3 linked regions of the Homo sapiens genome follow. The main gene of each other region encodes a partner of the protein of the gene in region 2 in a complex. Each region holds a gene or a part of one and is shown on either strand. Other genes may lie near its edges.

Region 1 (7,000 bases), on a different chromosome or scaffold from region 2:
TAATTCCAACCTGATATCAACATTTTTGTAACTCCTACTAGGTATGGAGAACTCTGTTAGTATTGTGACGTTATGGCTAACAGCAAAAAAACAAAAATACGTTGGACGTTTAGAATTTTCAAAAATAATGTCATTAGGTTGATGTTGTGTCTAATGTGTTATTTCGGCTTGTTCTTCAATAGCGTATTACAGAATAACCCCGATATCTACTTCAAATAAAACATCCATTCAAATCAGAAAAAAAATAAAACTAAATGGAACTTCTCCCAGCATAGCTGAGACTTTTGATTAATATAGTATATTCTAAAAAACAATGCTACAATTTTAGGACACAGGTACACTGGCTAATATAAACTTAAAAATTAGTGCCTTATTTGCCCAATATCCACAGACATTTCATTATAAATCTATACATCTAAAAGCAGTTAGTAATGTCAACTGGCTCTGTTTCAAAATTTCATTTGGTCCACCAGTAAAGAAATCATGCTTAGCTGATTTCTATTTTAATCATGGCAAGCAATATTTATGCTGAAAAATAGGCTTCATTCTGCTGAGCAGATTCATTTGCTTGTAGCTTGTAAGAGGAGGCAAAGTAGAAAATCAAAGAAGGGTACACGTTTTATAACAAAGACAAAACAACATGAACAATGGACAATTCAAGTATAATACTGAAATAAACTCTGTAATAAGATACACAAACTGCACACTACTTTTAGTAGCAGAATACTCAAGAAAGTAGAATAATAGGTAAGAATTAATACTGACATGTAAACACAACCACCGAGTATTCCTGTCCAGGGGAATGATTCTTTCACATTAACAGTATCTCCTGATATTGTGCTGTAACTACCAAAAAGGTACCTCAGCAGAGGATATATAAAGAATTTTTATAGATTGAGATGAGTTCCATTTTTAAAACAGATATGTGAATGCATCAAATTTATTTTTTGGTATTTTGGGTTGTCTAAACAGTCAGACAGCCTGGCAGATTTGTTTTGAAAAATTAAATAAACCCAAAACAATCAAATAACCTCTTCCCCGAATGTTAAACTTATTTCCAGATTTTGAAAAAGCATAAAAGGAGAAGGTATAACACAGCAAGCAAGGAGAGATGATAGAAATGTTGCCACATTACACACATTTTATAACAATCTCATTAAAAGGGACCACTGTCATCTGTTGTTTCAGTTTTAACATTTAATATTTTTGAAGGTTATTCAATGTAAGCAGAGTACTTTATCCCACTGATCTCAGCTTACTGAATGTACTAGGGTGAGGACATCTACTAAATAAAATAAGTAAAGAACATTTGGTTTACTTAGGCATGATGATTTTAAAAGACTCAAACCTTTGCTGAAGATTCCTTGAGTTCGATGAGACTGTCCTGTAGAAAATGAATGGAGATGACAGGTGAGCTGGCATAGTTCTCAGAACCCAGAGGAACTTTGGGAAGTATGGCTGTAACCTGGAAATAAACCAGCTACTTCTTGTGAGGATAAATTTCATGATGTCATTATCAATATGAATATCAACAATAAAAAAAAACATGTAATGGAATTGGAATGTTAAAAACTAAATTAAATGTACTCAATGTAAGAAATAAAAATCTTTCTCTGCTCAGAATTTAAAAATAAATGTCAATGCCACATTGTTCATATCTCTCTACTTAAGCTATAGTTAAGAGGTTTAAGAAAGCAAAACATTTTTTTCTCCACAAAAAATTTAAAATACTGGAGGTCACTGTGGAAGAACAACATTGCCTTATATTTTTCATAGTTCTTCTTTAATTGGGAGGATTCACATTTTACTTTATTTTTAACTCTAATATGAATATACACATCCTAGCTGAAAAATTCAGTGGCATTGTATTAACAAGAAAACAAAATATATAAGAGTAATCACTTTTTTTTTCTGCAAAGTGCCTATCATGGTGAATCTCACACCTCCCACACACAAAGAAAGCATTAAAAAAAAAGAAAGAAAAAGAAATCAACTACGATATTCCACCACAGTGCTCTTGATGAACAATTAATAACTTACAGTTTTTTAAAAGTTCAACGTACTGCAAATTCAAAGATTCCATGAAATTAGATGACTTTAGAATTAAAATTAAATATGGAGCAAGGAATGGCTACCCTGAGTCTTCAAGAAGGCTACACCCACGATTTTGTGCTGCAGTTGAATGCCTGGGGTTTCTCTTTGCTGGGTGGTAGGATTGGATGCCACATCTGCTTTTATCGTAACGCAAGGTTCAACTTGTTGGGAACCCAATGGGTATAAACAAACCTCCAAGGGAAGATACAACAGAAGCTGCATGCTCACTGAATATACACAACTACAGGAGAACTGATCACCAAGGAGACTTTAAAATGGAACTCCTTTCAAGACTCCTTCTTAGAAGGCACACATCGGTATGATGCTCATCAAGAAGCTTGAATTCAGAGGTAACTTGTTTATCTTGTGTCATCCAGGAAGTCTTCAGTGCTATATATTCTTCAATATGCTGAAAAATAGGCTTCATTCTGCTGAAAAGATTCGTTTGCTTGTAGCTACCATTGCACTCCAAAAAAGACTGCTTAAAGCAGTTGAGGCACTTCTGGGTAAAATTTCTCTTGCACTTTGAAACACTACAAAATTAGTGCTAAGTCCTTGAAGTTTTAACATTTTTATAATAAAAATACTCAATAGGAAAAAAAATCAGTCCACCAATATAGAAAAATTCATTTTCTAATGCAATATAAAACCTCCAGTGGCTCCAGTGAATGCTTGGCATAAGACTTGAAGGAAGTCAGGACACTGGTATTCCAAACAGGTGAGCCTAACATGGACGCTGCCTTCCTCAGGCTATACTAACCTTTACTGTGGAGGAATGTGATGGAGAAGGGTGAGTATCAATTTTGCGGCGTTTTTGTTCTGTTAAGACAAAAAGAAATAGTCAGAATAAGGTACATTTCTAGTTTTCCAAACACTTAAAAAAAAACACCAACTTGTATGACAAGTTCCCCTAGCAAAACCCCTATATAACTTACCAAAACAAGGAGACAATAACCAACTATACATTAAAATAACAAAACGTAAGAACGTATAAAGAAAGGTAAACTTGCCCCTTTCAGGCTCTGGAATATCTGATCTGGGAACAGGTGATTTCAAGGACCCAGAAACTGGTGTTTTTTCTCCTCCTTTAACATTTTCCTTTGATTTCATTTCCTTTGCTATATCTCTTTCTCTGGATGGCTCCTTCTCTCTTTCCCTTTCTTGAGTTGATTTTGATTCTGCGTTGGGGACAGTGGTCTTAAATTTCTCATCTTTAGCTTTTTCTTCCTTCTTGAATTTTTCTTTCTCTTTGTCAGACTTCGGCGTTCTTTCCTTGGTCTCTCTTGCTTTTTCATCTTTATTTGGCCGCTCTTCCTTTGGTTTTTCTTTACCATCTTTACCAAGTACCCTGGCCTCTGGAGTAGTAGCTGGAGTCTTTTCTTTTTTCTCTTTTTCTTTCTCTTTCCCTTTTTCTTTGTCATTTTCTTTAACAGCTTTGTTGCTTAAGAATAAAAACATGGGATTTTAACACAAATAATCATAAAATATATCCTTTGATATATGATAAAATATATCATAAAGGGTTTCTTACTAACTTCAAAAATACTAGAACTAAGGGGGAGTCCTTTGAAAACTAAAGGACAACTTTAAGACAAGGAAAAAGGAAGAAGTAATGGTCGGGTGCAGTGGCTCACGCCTGTAATCCCAGCACTCTGGGAGGCTGAGGAGGGTGGATCACTTGAGGTCAGGAGTTCGAGACCAGCCTGGTCAACATGGTGAAACCCCGTCTCTACTAAAAATACAAAAAACTTAGCTGCGCATGGTGGCGGGCACCTGTAATCCCAGCTACTCTGGAGGCTGAGGCAAGAGAATCACTTGAACCTGGGAGGCAGAGGTTGCAGTGAGCCAAAATCACACCACTGCACTCCAGCCTGGGTGACAGAGCAAGACTCCTTCTCGAAAAAAGGAAGTATTTCTTTATCCAGTAAATCATAAACAAATTCATTAATTGCAGATTTAAAAGATGTATTAGCCGGGCACGGTGGCTCACACCTATAATCCAGCACTTTGGGAGGCCAAAGCAGGCAAATCACGTGAGGCCAGGAGTTTGAGACCAGCCTGGTCAACATGGCAAAACCCTGTCTCTACTAAAAACACACAAAAAATTAGCCGGGAGTGGTGGCACACGCTTGTAATCCCAGCTACTAGGGAGGCTGAAGCACAAGAATCGCTTCAACCCACAGCAATCCCTCTATCCTAAAATATTTGTTTAACTTCACACCTACATTCCCCTGAATATCCCAGAAGGAGAAACAAAGTCGTTATACAAGCATAACTATACAAAACATAATTAGGATGTAAAGCGTATCAGCAAAATAGGGTACATACAAAATTTCAAAGCCCAACATAAATGACTTTTCACATTACTCAACAACCACTCCCCTTCTACTCATGAGGACTCATAGAAGAATTTAGAATTATGAGGGCCAGGTGCAGTGGCTCATGCCTCTAATTCCAGCAGTGTGGAAAGCCAAGGCAGGTGGATCGCTTGAGGCCAGAAGTTCGAGACCAGCCTGGGCAACATTGCAAGACCAACCCCGTCTCAAAAAAATACATAAAAATCATTTTTAAAAAGAATTTAGAATTATGACACATGGCACAGTGTTCCTACCTGTTAGAGCCACTATTTCCATTGCTTGAATTCCCTTTAGGTGTGGTACTAGAAGCTTTATTAACAGCTTTCACACCACACTGAGATCTCTCCCTTGATTTATCTGAAATAAAAGTAAGGTTTTATTTAACAAGCCCCTAAATGTAAATAAGCTACAATTTCAGAGCAAAATGATTAGAGAATAATTAGAAAGAAACAGCAAGCTGATTACTTCTTAACGCTTATATACTCCTATCTAGGGAATAAAAAGTAATACTAAGCCAGCATTGTACTCGTTCTGTGATACAAAACATTTCACTTTGTTGAAATAAAATATATTACTTATAAGTTTCTACAAATAAGCATACCAGTCTCCTCAGTACTGCTTTCATCCGATTTAGATGCACTTCCTATTGATGATGAAGAAGGCCCACCACCAGGCCCATTTTGCACACTGGCAACTGCATTCCTCGGAGGGGGGTCTTTGTGATGAAACTCATTTTCAGGTATCATGTATGACTTTCTACTTTTCAACTGCCCAGAGTAGCTGAAAGTCGCACAAAGTGTTTAAATATACAAACACAAATCAAAAAACATAAACATGAGGTTTTTAAGAATAAAATTAGCAAGTTATTCATTCTACTATGTGGTTCTAGAGAATTAAAAAATACCAATTTTTAATAAGTTCTTGAAGGTTTTTATAGAACGCCCAGCTTTCTTAAAAATTACAATTTCACTATAAACTAATCCTTAAACTAAGATGGCTTTTTTTTTTTACTCTTGAAGATCTGTTAACTATGATGATAAAATTATATTTCCTCCCAATCAAGAAATATTATACATGACTTTAAAAAAACTATCATCCAGTATAGACCGGAAGTTGATAATCAGAAGTGGTAACTCTCACCAGCCTGTGGAAACATGATCGCATAATCTCCCATAATCTCCTGAAGGCAGAAGATAAACTTCAACACTGTAAAACATTTTAAAGTCTTCAGAATCCTTCTGTCATCTAGTCTTGTAAATCACATTAAAATATAATTTTGTTACCCCATAGCCAATGCATATAGATCTGGCCTCTTCTCTTTTTCTTCTTGGCAGATTTTGTGTACTCTTCTTTCCAAAGCTTGACCCAGATTCAAAACTTTTGGGTACCAAGGAAGTATTTTTGTTAGCACAATCAAGATATTCCTGATGTGAGTATATTCGCCTGTTTCAAGGCAATGTACCGATGCCTACAACAAACATTTTCAGATCCATTATTATAAAAGCACAAGTATACAGAGAAAAATTTGCCTTTGAAAAATCCAATTTTTTTTTTACCTTGGTTAGTTTGTAATGCCATTTATGTACAACATGTCGAAAATTTTCATAGTCTAATTGATCAGCCTTATTTCCACCATCAAATCCAGTTGCCCGTAATATGGTAAGGAATCCTGGATAGTTTCCACATTCCTAAGGAAACAATGTTTGTCACTTTTAAAGAAAAATTATGATCCACAAAATAGCAGAAATTGAAACTTAAGTAGACTAGATCAATGTTTCCGTGTAAAAACATCATGCGTATTTGGATAGGTAGTCACAAAAAGTTCAACTTATACAAAGATACTAATTTGGAATGTCAGTTTGAGATAGAATAAAAAAGTACATAGCACATTTTAATAACAAATTAATTGTGCTTATAAACACAGTTTTACAACTGAATCTTAAACTCAGCTTCTCTTTTAAAACTCAACTATCTAGATATTAATGGATGTGGTCATTATATACATGGGTAAAATATAAGGGTTTTTATTAGTCATACCTTTTCATATGTGGCTCTATCACTATGCCACCTGGTCACAGTCTCTAACATGCAGCAAAGAAACCTTCCGTATCGACTGGCTTCATTTTCAGTACAGCTTGCAACTGTGTAAATTATGTCAGAGAAAACCTACAGGAGAAAAATGTTTAAAAAATATAAACAAATCAAGGTCAAAATCAGTTAAAAATATTAGAAGATTCTCTTACAGCAAGTCATAATAAACAGGTAAGCCTAGTCAAAATGTATATTCCCTTTATATAATGACACTGCAGAGAACTTTGGAGATTTTGGCTTTTGTGGGGAAATAATGCATTCATAAAACAACCACCCAAAACAAGAACTTTTATAAAGAAAGCTGATTTACAGTGACAAGGAAAAAAAAATTTATCATTATTATTACATAATAAGTTGTTTTTTTTTTATTACATAATAGTTTCTTAACCACTTAGCCATACATATTACTGGGTTTACGGGGAGAGTAAGCAGAGGAAATGCTGATAGAAATTAAAAAT
Region 2 (7,105 bases):
CCAGTCTCTCAGAACCTTCATACCCATCTTATGCTCCCCTAATAAATTTACATCTAAGTCCTCCAATGACTGATGTTAAAGCAATGTGGCCAAAGCAGTGGCACATTACCAGAGACTAACCTTACTCTATCCAACTCACCTCTGTTTCATCTCCCAGTACATCTTCTTCATTTGCCTCCTCTTCAGCTAAAGAATATTAAAATATTCAGGTCAAGCCCTGCTACAAAACCATCTTGATCACTTACCAAGGTTAAAATTATAATCACTTTGCTTTCCCCCAAAAAATCCAACAGTGAAGGCAGAAACTGATGCACATAAAATCTGCTACATCTGGAGAAGATAAAACCAGATTTCTACCTAACATTAATTACAAATGTGAACTCCAGTTGGACTGAAGAACTAAATGTGAAGTCAAACTAGAGAATTAATTTTAAAAGTAATGTTGGGCCAGGCACCGTGGCTCTCTGTAATCCCAGCAATCTGGGAGGCAGAGGCAGGTGGATCGTTTGAACCTAGGAGTTCAAGCGACCAGCTTGGGGAACACAGCGAAACCCCGTCTTTACAAAAAACATAAAAAAATTAGCTGGGTGTGGGGGTGTGCGCCTATAGTCTTAGCTACTGGGGAGGCTGAAGTGGGAACATTACTTGAACCCAGAAGGCAGAGGCTGCAGTGAGCTGAGATCATGTCACTGCACTCCAGCCTGGGTGACAGAGCAAGACCCAGTCTTGAATAACAAACAAAAAAAGTATGTGGAAAAGTATCTTTGAGATTTAGTGGTGGGGAAAGATTTGTTTAAAAGAAAAACAACCCAGAACCAAAAGTAAGAGGTGAAAAATTGAAGATTTTTCAAAACTAAGTACTTCTACTTAAGGATAGCACAAAGAAACTTAAAAGACAAATGACAAGACATTTGTTTTTGTTGAGACAGAGTCTTACTCTGTCGCCCAGATAAAGTGCAATGGCACAATCACAGCTCCCTGCAGCCTCCCCCTCCTGGGCTCAAGGGATCCTCCTGCCTTAGCCTCCCAAGTAGGTAGGACTACAGGTGCACATCACCACACCCAGCTAATTTTATTATTTTTCTTAGAGATGGGATCTCACTATGCTGCCCAGACTGGTCTCAAACTCCGGGCCTCAAGAGATCATACCACCTTAGCCTCCCAAAGTGCTGAGTTACAGGCATGAACCACCCCGCACAGCCAAAGAAGATATTTGTGCCTAAAATCAACAAAACAATAGTTATTAGAATATAAAAGAAATGCCTGCAAGCCAACAGGCAAATTATGGGAACCTCAACAGAAAAATGGGCAAAGAAGAAACCCAAAGAATTGTGAAATGTTTAAACTTTTTTCATGGAGAACATAAAACAGCCAACAAATTAGCAAAACTTAGGCCACTTGATAGGACAGTGCCAAGTTTAGGTTTGTGAAGATACAAGAACCCTTATGTACTAGTAATGAGACTGCAGATCTACAGAGCAATTCTGGAAAATAATTTGGGAGTCCTTAGTCACATTAAGTATATATTTATGAATATTAATTAGCAATACCATTCTTGGGCATATACCCCAAAAAGACTTTCACAGGAACATAAGAGCATAAAATAAGTAGTTCATAATAATATACTATATACTATTAGTATATAGGATATAGTATACTATATCCTACAGGTTAAGCATCACCAATCTGAAAATTCAAAACCTAAAATGCTCCTAAATCTAAAACTTTCTGAAGGCTGATATGATACAAGTGGAAAACCCCACACCTAACCTCATGCAATGGGTCACAGTCAAAACTTTGTTTCATGTACAAAATTATTTTAAATACTGTATAAAACTACTTTCAGATATGTGGATAAGAAACAAATAAATTTTGTGTTTAGGCTTGGATCTCACCCCCAAGATATCTCATTATATATATACACAAATATTCCAAAATCCGAAAAAACTAAAATCTGAAACACTTCTAGTCCCAAGCATTTCAAATATATAACACTCAACCCATAGTATAATATATACTATATACTATTATATACATATAGTATACTATAAGTAGTATCACTTATAGTAGCAGAGGCTTGGTGGCAATAAAATTTTCTGTCACCGAGTGAATTAAGTAAAATGTGTGGTTATCCATCATTGAATGCTATGCAGGAATTAGAATCAACAGACTAGATAACTACACAGTCACATTCCACATGGACGCATCTTTAAAAAAAAAAAAACACAATACTTAGTGAAAAAAATGAGAAATAAAGCAAGGCTATGGCCAGTTATGTAATTACCAATTATATAAATGAAAACATTCTACAAAACAACACTACATAGTTTACCAGGAAAAACACCAAAAAAATACATTCAAACACATTAGAACGGGTGCCTAAATGGGTTGGGGAGAAAGTGAAATGAGGAATAGAAATAAAAGGGAATACGTAAATAAAAATTAGATAGAGGACTTGTACAACCTAAGATGTAGGTTGTACAAGATGGCTGGGCGCGGTGGCTCACAACTGTAATCCCAGCACTTTGGGAGGCTGAGGCGGGTGGCTCACCTGAGGTCAGGAATTCTAGACCAGCCCAACCAATATGGTGAAACCCCGTCTCTACTAAAAATACAAAAATCAGCCAGGCATGGTGGTGCTCGCCTGTAGTCCCAGCTGCTTGGGAGGCTGAGACAGGAGAATTGGTTGAAGCCGGGAGACAGAGGTTGCAATGAGCTGAAACTGCGTCACTGCACTCCAGCCTGGGCAACAGAGCAAGACTCCATCTCAAAAAAAAAAAAGAGAGAGTTTTCTTGATGCCGTTAATTAAGAGCTTACATTGCTAATGACCTGAAAAAAAAAAAAGAAATCTTTTCAGTGTCAAAGCCTGAAAATCCCCTCACTCACATCACTCCGCCTCCACAAAGTACTCACCATGTTCTTCAAGATATGCCTGGAGTCTGTGGATAAGATCTTGCTTTATTCCCTTGGTCTCCAAACCACGAGCAAGACATTCTTGCTTTAGTTCGGCAAGCTGAGGGGAAAAAAATAAAACTTTTCCTTAGTTAACAGGATGAACACCAGTGAATAAAATGGTAGTTCCCACAAGGAAAAGAAAAAAAGAAAATGAAGTTCCATCCCAAATTACTGCCCTTAATTCTACCAAGGCTCTAGGTCCACAAAGATGATCCATTTTCCTCTAACGATATTCAATATACAAGAGGAACTGCCTAACAGATGCTGAAGAATAAACATCACACTTTAATAAAAAACCTCATCTATTTGTATACCTACTAACTGTCACAAATCTCTAGTTATTTCTAAATATTCTGAGGGGGGAAAAAGGTTTTTTTCTTAAGACTACTGTGGCAGCCAGCATATTGGAAGAATGAACCTTCAAGTAGAAAATCCAATGATCTAAAAGCAGATTCTCCTTACCACTTATTATCCCAGATCCGTTATTACAATCTACCATATACATGCATACAGGTCTAACCACCATAGAATTAGGTAGATGCATTAGCTAATGTGAACAATGAATTGATTAAAGGATCTGTGTCAAAATGGGAAGAAATATCTAATGGCATACCATAGAGTTCTGCTGAAGATTTAACTTATCTAAAGATATAAAAGCTATGTTCATCAATTTTACAGACAATAGGAGGAAGGAGAATTGATGGATTATTGACATAACTAAGCTTAAAAAATGCAACACGGAAACAGAAAAAAAAAAAAACACTTCTTCAGGACTAATAATAAGCCAAAACAAAGACTCAATTTAGTAGGAATAAGGTATACATATAACTTCCTACACTTAGATTCAAAACTTCAGTTATATAAAAACTGGGTAAGGGAGGATTGGCTCAATAGTAACTCAAAGGATAAAGACATCAGAATTTTAGGCAAAGAAGGTTAACAGTATGATTTGCTACCTATAAGTCATAGGTAACTGAAATATAGACTCCATAATAAACGATGTAATGGCCTTACTGGGCTCTATACTCTTATTTTACGAAGCACAACGACATGCTGACCCAGGAGAACAAGCAGGAAAGAAAGGCTCCAGAAATTCTATATGCAGATCAACACACAGATAGATCTTTGGTCTGAAAGATGACCTTTTTTGTTTTGGAGTACAGATCTATGACCAATCAGTAGAAGCTAGAAGGCAGACTCCTATAGACAAAAAATTTTACAACTATGGAGGATGCTCTGCATCTCTACGTTTTTCAGCTAGGAGAACATTTCATAATGAAAAGTGGAGAGTTTTTTAAAACATATCACAATGGCCGGGCGCGGTGGCTCACGCCTGTAATCCCAGCACTTTGGGAGGCCGAGGCGAGTGGATCACAAGGTTAGAAGATCGAGACCATCCTGGCTAACACAGTGAAACCCCGTCTCTACTAAAAATACAAAAATTAGCCAGGCGTGGTGGCAGGCGCCTGTAGTCCCAGCTACTCGGGAGGCTGAGGCAGAAGAATGGCGTGAACCCTGGAGGCGGAACTTGCAGCGAGCTGAGATCGACCACTACACTCCAGCCTGGGCGAAAGTGCGAGACTCCGTCTCAAAAATAAATAAATAAAATAAATAAAACATATTACAACGACTAGCAAAGCATTTAGTGAGTGGGGCGGGCAGGCAGGGATGCTATGAACAGAACTGCCCAACCCAACAAGCTGAAAGCAACCTCTACTGAGGAACATGGTAGGTAATCACCCATTAAAAATTATTTTTAGGCCAGGGACAGTGGCTCACGCCTGTTATCCCAGCACTCTGGGAGGCCAAGGCGGGCAGATCATCTGAGGTCAGGAGTTCAACAGCAGCCTAGCTAACATGGTGAAACCCTGTCTCTACTAAAACTACAAAACTAGACCAGGTGCGGTGGCTCACGCCTGTAATCCCAGCACTTTGGGGGGCCTAGGCAGGCAGATCAACTGAAGTCAGGAGTTCAAGACCAGCCTGGCCAACACGGTGAAACCCTGTCTCTACTAAAAATACAAATATTAGCTGGGCATGGTGGCAGGTGCTTATATTCACCCAGCTATTCAGGAGGCTGAGACAAAAGAATTGCTTAAACCTGGGAGGCGGAGGTTGCAGTGAGCCAAAATCGTGCCATTGCACTCCAGCAGGTGAAAGAGTGAGACTGTCTCAAAAAAATAAATAAAAATAAAAATAAAAATATAAAATACAAAACTAGCCAGGCATGGTGGCACATGCCTGTAATCCCAGCTATTGAGGAGGCTGAGGCAGGAGAACAGCTTGAACCTGGGACGCAGAGGTTGCAGTGAGCCGAGATCACATCATTGCGCTCCAGCCTGGATGCCAAGAACAAAATTCTGTCTCAAAAAAAAAAAAAATTATTTTTAAGGCTTTTGCCAGTTTTAAAAAAAAAAATGACTGCAGAGTGACTGGAGAGCATAGCCTCTGAAGCCAGACTACTTAGGTTTGAATTCCAGTTTTACTACTTGTAACCTTATGTGAATAACTTCACCTCTCTATGCCTCAGTTTCCTTACTTGTGAAATGGGAATGATAACAGTACCTATTTCATAGGGTTGTTATGAAGACTAAATTAAAAAAAATTTTTTTTTTTTTTTTTGAGACGGAGTCTTGCTCTGGTGCCCTGGCTGGAGTACAGTGGCATGATCTCGGCTCACTGCAACCTCTGCGTTCCAGGTTCAAGCAACTGTCCTGCCTCAGCCTCCTGAGTAGCTGGGATTATAGGCATGTGCCACCATGCCTGGCTAATTTTTGTATTTTTACTAGAAGCAGGGTTTTACCATGTTGACTAGGCTGGTCTCAAACTCCTGACCTCAAGTGATCCACCTGCCTTGGTCTCCCAAAGTTCTGGGATTACAGGTGTGAACCATAAATTAAAGGAAAAAAAAAATTTCTTGAGACGGAGTCTCGCTCTATCACCCATGCTGGAGTGCAATGGCACGACCTCAGCTCACTGCAACCTCTGCCTCCCGATTAGCTGGGACTACAGGCGCATGCCACCATGTCCAGCTAATTTTTGTATTTTTAGTAGAGACGGGGTTTCACCATATTGGCCAGGCTGGTCTCGAACTCCTGACCTTGTGATCCACCTGCCTCCGCCTCCCAAAGTGTTGGGATTACAGGCATGAGCCACCGCGCCCGGCCTTAAATCAAGAATTTTATAAAGCATTTAGAACAGTGCTTGACAGCCAAAAAATGCTTTATATTTATTAAGTACTAAATCACTGGTCTCAGATTTGAGAGTTTCACAAATCAATGCATTTTTTATTTTATTTATTTTTAGAGACAGTGGTCTCGCCATGTTGCCCGGGCTGAACTTAAACTCTTGAACTCAAGAAATCCTCCCACCCGAACCTCCAGCTGGGACTACAGGTACACACCACTGTGCCCAGCTCAATGTACTTTTAAATAGGTAGGCTGATAAGGTTGCTTTTTACAATATTCCAATCAGGTCACGGAGCAATACTTTCGCAATAACAATAAAAATCAATTACTACAAAAATGAGCGTAGTGACTTGGATATAGCAGTGACATCAAACTGCTATAAAACTTTCTAAAAGCTTACACTCGGTTTTTGTATTTATCTCACTACTAACCAGGAACAGCTAGTTCATGGACCAGCACCCCAAGGACTGTGAACCACGCCTTAAGTAACATTATAAGTGATCTTTAATGTCCATTTATTAAGTAACAATCTTGATCTTGGTGGCTTATGCTTACAATTCCAGCCCCTTGTGAGGCCAAGGCGGGAGGATTGCCTGAATCCAGAAGTTAGAGACCAGCCTGGGAAACACCATGAGATGCCATCTCTATTAAAAAAAATTTTTGGTCGGGCGTGGTGGCTCACTCCTGTAATCCCAGCACTTTGAGAGGCCGAGGCAGGCGGATCATGAGGTCAGGAGATAGAGACCATCCTGGCTAGCACGGTGAAACCCCGTCTCTACTAAAAATACAAAAAAAAAAAAAAAAAATTAGCCGGGCGCGGTGGCGGGCGCCTGTAGTCCCAGCTCCTCAGGAGGCTGAGGCAGGAGAACGGCGTGAACCCGGGAGGCGGAGCTTGCAGTGAGCCGAGATCGTGCCACTGTACTTCCACCGGGGTGACAGAGCGAGACTTTGTCTCAAAAAA
Region 3 (7,446 bases), on a different chromosome or scaffold from region 2:
CCAGAACTTTCATCTACACATTTCCCCATTTGGTCTTCACAATACTCCTCTAACATACACTTTATTATCTCCATTTATAAAATCTATAAGATTTTATAGATGAAGGAAATAGGAGATAAGACGACAAGCCAAAGTGTCAAAGCTATGAAGTCACAGAGCTATGAAGTGGCGCAATCTCGGCTCACTGCAAGCTCCACCTCCTGGGTTCACGCCATTCTCTCGCCTCAGCCTCCCGAGTAGCTGGGACTACAGGCGCCTGCCACCACACCAGGCTAATTTTTTTGTATTTTTAGTAGAGACGGGGTTTCACCGTGTTAGCCAGGATGGTCTCGATCTCCTGACCTCGTGATCCGCCCGCCTCGGCCTCCCAAAGTGCTGGGATTACAGGCGTGAGCCACCGTGCCCGGCCAAGCCAAGATTTTAAACCCAGATTTGACCCCAAAGCCCCCTTTTCTCTTACACCAGCATTTCTCAACTCCAGCCATTCGCATGCCAACATCACAATTTTTGTCCTATCCATTAAACACTATACTTTTCTTTATTCAAGATTTTTCTTAAAATTGATTCAAAAAAGTTTACTTAAATAAATTTAGCAGCCAGCTGTGGAGGCTCAAGCCTGTAATTCCAGCACTTTGGGAGGCCAAGGTAGGCAGATCACTTGAGTCCAGGAGTTCAAGATCAGCCTGGGCAATATGGCAAAACCCGTCTCTACAAAAAATTAGCCAGGCATGGTGGCATGTGCCTGTAGTCCCAGCTACTCAGGAGGTTGAGGTGAGAGGATGGCTTGAGCCCAGGTGGAGGCTGCAGGGAGCCAATATTGTGCCACTGTACTCCATCCTGGGTAACAGGGCAAGACCCTGTCTCAAAAATAAAAATAAAATAAAATAAATAAAAATAAAATAAATTTAGCTTCAACTGAATAATAAATTCTATGTGCTAGTTCTTCTAGTAGACATTAAGATATTTGCAAAACTGGTTTTTAATGTTCACCCACGCATCACCTGAATCACTCATGGATCAGCAGCTGTATACTTGGGGAAAAACCACACCATTCCGCCTCCAGAGATAAGTCTTGTCAACAAAGTCCAGTGGCCCACACTGAACACATCAATTAAAAATCTCACCAACTTTTTCCATTCTAAAACGCATATTTTCTCACATTTTAGTATCTACACTGTATCTTAAAATGTATCAGAAAGCATTTCAAAATTTTGGGTGTATCACAGTTATTTACCAACTTTCTTTCCTAATGGAACATCTTACGATCAATGAAAACTCAGAGTCCCATACAATATCGGCCTCAATACTTACAACAGAGCCTATAAATGTACTGCACAACTTTCTCCCAGATCACCAAGACCATCCAAGTTTCAACCATTCTAACTCATCAGAATTTTCCAAATTCTCCATGCCTTTGCACATGCCGTTCCCTCCTGGAAATGTCCCATTCCCCACCCACAGCACCCTGACCACTCAACTCCTATGGCTACCCTAAAAGTTTGCTCAAATTTGGTGAGGCCTTCCCTGGCTCCCCTAGGCAGACTTTTGTTTTCATTTCTATTCTGGGTATCCACCTTGCAGACCTCTCCATTATAAAATGAACCATATCTTGCTATGTTATTTGTATATATATGTCTTCTCCCCGCAGGGGAGGTCCTTGGAGCTGGAAACTCTTATTCAGCTCAGGATGTCTCATACACAGCTGAGTGCCAAGCACAGAAAAGATATTCGGAAAATGGTTGTTGAATGAATCCAAACAGCTTATCTTCCTATTGCCCTCTCTCTGAATAGTCACCTTTAGTGTTCACAGTGGCAATGCATTTTGTAGTCCTCACATCCCAGATGCGAATGGTTTTATCTCCGGACGCCGTAACAAATAGGTCAGGATTACTTGGATGCCAACAAAGCTGGTCCACACTATCCCCATGTCCCCGATAATTGTTTTCTTTGACCTGAAAGAACAGAATCCAGATGTGACTTCACATAGATGTAACTGCCTCCGCATGTAACTTTATAAGCTTATTCAAACCAAAGTATGCTGGGACCAGTAAAGATCTGGGTAATTCAGAATCCAGTTCCTCCAAGCCCTTTCTCCCTTCTCTTCTCCGCAGGCCTTCTGAACTGTTTTTCTCAGCTTCCACACCTATGCCCTTACTTTTGTGCCCTCCCTGGCCTTCTCCTCCTTCCTGGTTTTCCACCCTTACTCTACCACCAACGTACCACCAACGTACCACCACCAACGTACCACCACCACCACCACCACCACCACCACAGCCCCTAGCCACTTCTTATCAGCACAGGATTCGACTCCAAACCAGTAAGGCTCCCATCGCAGCCCTGTCCCATCCACCCTCTCCTCACCTTCACCCGCCATCGCCAACCTCCTTACTTCCACACTCTTCACACGCCCCCAGTCTTCCTCTCCTCACCCCTCACGACCCCGTCACCCCCACACTCCACCTTCTCCCTACTCCCTCCTCATCTCCACACTCCCCCTTTCCCCTTCCCTCAAACCCACTCTCCTTTCACCCCCGCGGCTCCGTTCGCCCCCATTCGCTCTCCCACTACCGCACCTCACTTCACCACGGCCCCTCTCCCTAGCCTGAGCCGAGCCCCGGCAGCTCACCAACCGGTCCTTCTCCAGCAAGAAGACGCTGGCCGTCTTGTCGAAGGACCCCGAGGCTAGGCGACGCCCGTCGCAACTCCAGGCCACCGAGTGCACCTTGGCGCTGTGCGCCAGGAACTCGCGCGTCTTGCTGTGGCCCCGGAACAGCTCCTGCATCCCAAGCACGTAGCGCGACGGGCCGCTGCTCACTGAGCACCACGGGGCCATCGAGCCGGGGCCGCTCTGGCCCAACGCCGAGGGCCCCATGGCTGCAGCGGGGACCGCCATGCCGAGCTCCCCAGCTTCCAACTCACAACACTGCAGCAGCCTCCACGGCGCAGTCAGTCCTGGCGCCGCTGCCGCACGCATGCGCCCGGAAGAGCGACGGCCCCTCTGCGCAGGCGCGCTGTACCCCGCCCCGGAAGGGACTACAAATCCCGGTATGCAGCGCGTGCCCGCGTCTGCTTACTTAGTAATATTTGGTTCTTTTAACTCCAAATATGCTTCACACTTAACGATTCCGAGTTTTTTTAGTGTTCTTATTTCTCCCTTACCTATTCTTTGGTAGATATATGTGTATTCCTGTTTAATCGAATAAAAGAACCAACACTAACCTTCTAAACAGTTAACTCATCACCTTTCTTCTGGGGTTGTTCCGTAATCCCTAGTCCCCTCCCTTAAGAGCAGAAAGCTCTGGTCTTTTTGCTGGAGAAGGACCAGCTGGTGAGCTTGTCCCATGAAAAGGGCTAGCGGGTGTGGAGTGAGGGAAGAGGTGTTAAGAAGGGGTCTGGAGGTTTTGTTTTTTTTTTTTAAATAAAAATGGATTTTTTGTTTTTAAAAGGTAATGGCAGAGGCGTGTGAACCAGAGCAACTCTATCTTAAATAGGAACTGGGTAAAATGAGGCTTAAACCTACTGGGCTGCATTCCCAGACTGTTAAGGCATTCTAATCACAGGATGAAATAGGAGGTCAGCACAAAATACAGGTCATAAAGACCTTGATGATAAAACAGGTTGCAGTAAAGGAACCGGCCAAAACCCACCAAAACCAAAATGGCGATGAGAGTGACCTCTGGTCATCCTCACCTCTACACTCCCACCAGTGCCAGGACAGTTTGTAAATGCCATGGCAATGTCAGGAAGTTACCCTATACGGTCTAAAAAAGGGAGGCATGAATAATCCACCACTTGTTTAGCATATCATCAGGAAAAACCATAAAAATGCGCAACCAGCGGCCCTCGGGGCTGCTCTGTCTATGGAGTGGCCATTCTTTTATTCCCTTTACTTTCTTAATAAACTTGCTTTCACTTTGCACTGCGGACTTGCCCTGAATTCTTTCCTGAGTGAGATCCAAGAACCCACTCCTGGGGTCTGGATTGGGACCCTTTTCCTGTAACAGTATTACATGCACATGATTGTAAATATAAAAATAAAAGATATAGAGTGAAAAGTAAATGTCCACCTGCGTATCCACCCCACCTCTCATATCTCCCTTAAACCAGTGGCTTCTTGCTGGAGAAAAAAGGGGTGGTGAGCTGCCAGCGCCAGTCAAGGCCCTGGAGAAGAGCTGAGGGGGGAAGGTTTTGGTGGTGAGTAGTAGTGGTAAATGTGTTTAAAAACCCAATTTTTAAAAGGCAACACGTGCACTTGGTAACAAATGTAAAATGTATAAAAGGGAATAGATTGAAAAGCTTCCCTCCATCCTGTGTCCCCAAACTTCTCTTCTGAAAAAGTTAAATTTCTTGTGTGGCCTTCCAGAGACAGTGTAAGTAAGCACCTGGGCAAGGTAGATAGGTGTGTGCATAACCTCTCCCAACACACTGCCAAAAAGGTAGCATTCCTTACACAACTTGCTTCCTATGGTAAATATGTATAGGAAATCATTTCTTGTCAGAAAATGCAGACGTCTCATTCTTCTCAATGGTGGCAGTCTTTATATGAATATATAATATTCAACTGATCCCTTCATGAATTTGCTTTTAGAACAATATTAGAACAATATTGCAGTGAATATCCCTATACAACCTTCATTGTGCACATCTGCACTTTTTTATTTGGATATATATTGCCAAAACACCTATGAAGAGGTTTAATAATTTATACTTCCACCAGCAACATAAGAAAGTGTCAGAAGGTCCTAGGTACTAAATGAGTACACATATAAAGCATATGGCTCTCAGAAGGACCGTAGGAAATAAGGTCCCTATCTTTCCCCAATCTTTTCCCTACCCCATTGCAACCAGAAATTCTTGGAAACTACAAAGCTTTTCAGACTCCAAGAATACCACTGAAGTCTCTAAAATCTTGGAGTAGGAAACTATTTGGTGTCTAGTTTTCTTCCTTACCCCTCTTTTTCAGGAATCTTCATATATATATATATATTTAGATATTTTTCCTACATTTTCCCTGTATTTTGTATTTTTTTTTTTTTTTTTTTTTTTTTTTTGCTGCATACACTGAGGATTTACAAGTCCCTGCCAAGATACAAAAACTGAAGTAGAAAGAGGTAAAATGTCCTGGTCCAGGTCACATGACTATCATGTGACAGAGCAAAGGTTAGAACTCAGATGTTACTGACTCTAAAATCTACACTCTGATTCTCAGTATCTGAAATCACGTAAATGTGATTCTTTGTATTTCTGCATTCATTTTGTATTTTTGTATGTAATGTATATTTTTTATTTTTTAATTTTTTTTTGAGATGAAGTTTTGCTCCTATTGCCCAGGCTGGAGTGCAGTGCGATCTTGGCTCACTGCAACTTCCGCCTCCCAGGTTCAACCAAGTCTTCTGCCTCAGTCTCCCGAGTAGCTGGGATTACAAGCACCGCCACCATGCCTGGCTAATTTTTTGTATTTTCGGTTGAGATGGGGTTTCGCTATGCTGGCCAGGCTGGTCTCGAACTCCTGATGTCAGGTGATCCACCCGTCTCTGCCTCCCAAAGTGCTGGGATTACAGGCATGAGCCACCGCGCCCGGCCTGTAATGTATGTTTTTTACTTAATTTCCCCTTGTGTTCCTTTTCTATATTCTGTATACATGGATGTTAGAAACTCAGTTGTGATAAGTATATCCGACTGCTCTTGCCTGAGACAGAAACTGGTATAACATTTCAAGTTGGACTAGCACACATCTGGGGGCAATGTTGAGACTGAAGTCAGAGTCTCTCAAAGGGGAGATAAAATTGAGGGGAACAGAGTCATGGGCCATTTTTTAAAACTTTTTATTTGGAAAAATTCAAATTTACAGAAAAGTTGCAAGAATACTAAAAAGCACTGCTATTCCTGTGACACAGATTCACCAAATTGTAGCATTTTGTTCCACTTTTTTTCTTTTTTTAGTTTTATTTTTATTTATTTATTTTTTTGAGACACAGTCTTACTCTGTCACCCAGGCTGGAGTGCAGTGGCGCGATCTTGGCTCACTGCAACCTCCGCTTCCCAGGTTCAAGCGATTCTCATGTCTCAGCCACCTGAGTAGCTGGGATTACAGGCATGCACCCCCACACCCGCTAATTTTTTGTATGTTTTGTAGAAATGGAGTTTCTCCATGTTGGCCAGGCTGGTCTCAAACTCCTGGCCTCACCCGCCTTGGCCTCCCAAAGTGCTGAGATTACAGGCCTGAGTCACTGTGCCCAGCCTCCATTTGCTTTCTCTACATATATCTACGTTACTACTCTTTTGTCTAAACATTTGGCAATTGTGCATTAGTCCGTTCTCACATTGCTATAGGGAACTACCTGAGACTGGGTAATTTATAAAGAAAAGAGGTTTAATTGGGCCAGGCGCGGTGGCTCACACCTGTAATTCCAGCACTTTGGGAGGTCAAGGCGGGTGGATCACGAGGTCAGGAGTTCAAGACCAGCCTGGCCAAGATGATGAAACCTCGTCTCTACTTAAAATATAATAAAATTAGCCAGGCGTGGTGGCGGGCGCCTGTAGTCCCAGCTACTTGGAAGGCTGAGGCAGGAGAATGGCGTGAACCCGGGAGGCGGAGCTTGCAGTGAGCCTAGATTGCACCACTGCACTCCAGCCTGGGCTACAGAGCAAAAAGCTGTCTCAAAAAAAAAAAAAAAAAAAAAAGAGGTTTAATTGGCTCGTGGTTCCATAGGCTGTACAGGAAGCATGGCTGGGCACGTCTCAGGAAACAGAGAGACAGGGAGGTGCCACATACTTTTAAACAGCCAGATGTCATAAGAACTCAGTCACTGTAACGAGAACAGCAAGGGGGAAATTCGCTCCGATGATCCAGTCACCTCTCACCAGGCCCCTCCTCCAACACTGGGGTTTACAATTGGAAATTTTCTCAGGGACACAAATCCAAGACATATCACATTGTAAGTTGCATACATCTTACCCTTTACCCCTAAATATTTCAGTATTTCCTAAGAAATAGGATGTTCTGTTTCCTACCCCCAGTATAGTTATCGATGTTGGTAAATTGAACAGAAACATGGAATTTTATTTAATCTACTGTCTGTATTTCATTTGTGTCAATTTAGCCAGAAATGTTCTTTATAGCCCTTCTTTTCTTTCAGTACATGTTCCAGTCTAGAACCTCATACTATATTTAGTTATTATATGTCCTTAGTCTCCTTGAATCTATAAAGGTTCCCCAGCATTTCTGTGCCTATTATGACATCAACATTTTTGAAGAATGCAGTTGATGGACCGTTTTTACAGTTCCTTCTCTCACCTAGAAATTCTCTCTTAGGAGCTGATCAAAATCAAACTAAGAAATTTTTTACACATGTGAGTCTTGGGGACTTCAGGGTCATTCAAGGCAGAATCAGGCCATAAATAGTAATGCCAGAGATGACAGGATGTGTAGAGGGACAGGGGAAA

What was found.
Region 1: SARNP (region 2) and THOC2 share a complex: the UniProt entries of both Homo sapiens proteins name them as parts of the transcription/export (TREX) complex.
Region 3: SARNP (region 2) and THOC3 share a complex: the UniProt entries of both Homo sapiens proteins name them as parts of the transcription/export (TREX) complex.

Annotation. Positions count from the first base shown.
Region 1 is NC_000023.11:123,618,053-123,625,052, forward strand, and holds part of THOC2 (THO complex subunit 2), read right to left. Parts: intron 6,618-7,000; coding exon 6,489-6,617; intron 6,140-6,488; coding exon 6,008-6,139; intron 5,920-6,007; coding exon 5,735-5,919; intron 5,658-5,734; coding exon of another isoform or gene 5,592-5,657; intron 5,232-5,591; coding exon 5,053-5,231; intron 4,809-5,052; coding exon 4,706-4,808; intron 3,536-4,705; coding exon 3,105-3,535; intron 2,914-3,104; coding exon 2,855-2,913; exon of another isoform or gene 2,136-2,854; intron 1,466-2,135; coding exon of another isoform or gene 1,385-1,465; coding exon 1,349-1,384; intron 1-1,348. UniProt on the Homo sapiens protein: Component of the THO subcomplex of the TREX complex which is thought to couple mRNA transcription, processing and nuclear export, and which specifically associates with spliced mRNA and not with unspliced pre-mRNA.
Region 2 is NC_000012.12:55,800,715-55,807,819, forward strand, and holds part of SARNP (SAP domain-containing ribonucleoprotein), read right to left. Parts: intron 3,015-7,105; coding exon 2,915-3,014; intron 187-2,914; coding exon 140-186; intron 1-139. UniProt on the Homo sapiens protein: Binds both single-stranded and double-stranded DNA with higher affinity for the single-stranded form. Specifically binds to scaffold/matrix attachment region DNA. Also binds single-stranded RNA. Enhances RNA unwinding activity of DDX39A.
Region 3 is NC_000005.10:175,965,316-175,972,761, forward strand, and holds the start of THOC3 (THO complex subunit 3), read right to left. Parts: upstream 3,001-7,446; 5' UTR 2,894-3,000; coding exon 2,627-2,893; intron 1,953-2,626; coding exon 1,796-1,952; intron 1-1,795. UniProt on the Homo sapiens protein: Component of the THO subcomplex of the TREX complex which is thought to couple mRNA transcription, processing and nuclear export, and which specifically associates with spliced mRNA and not with unspliced pre-mRNA.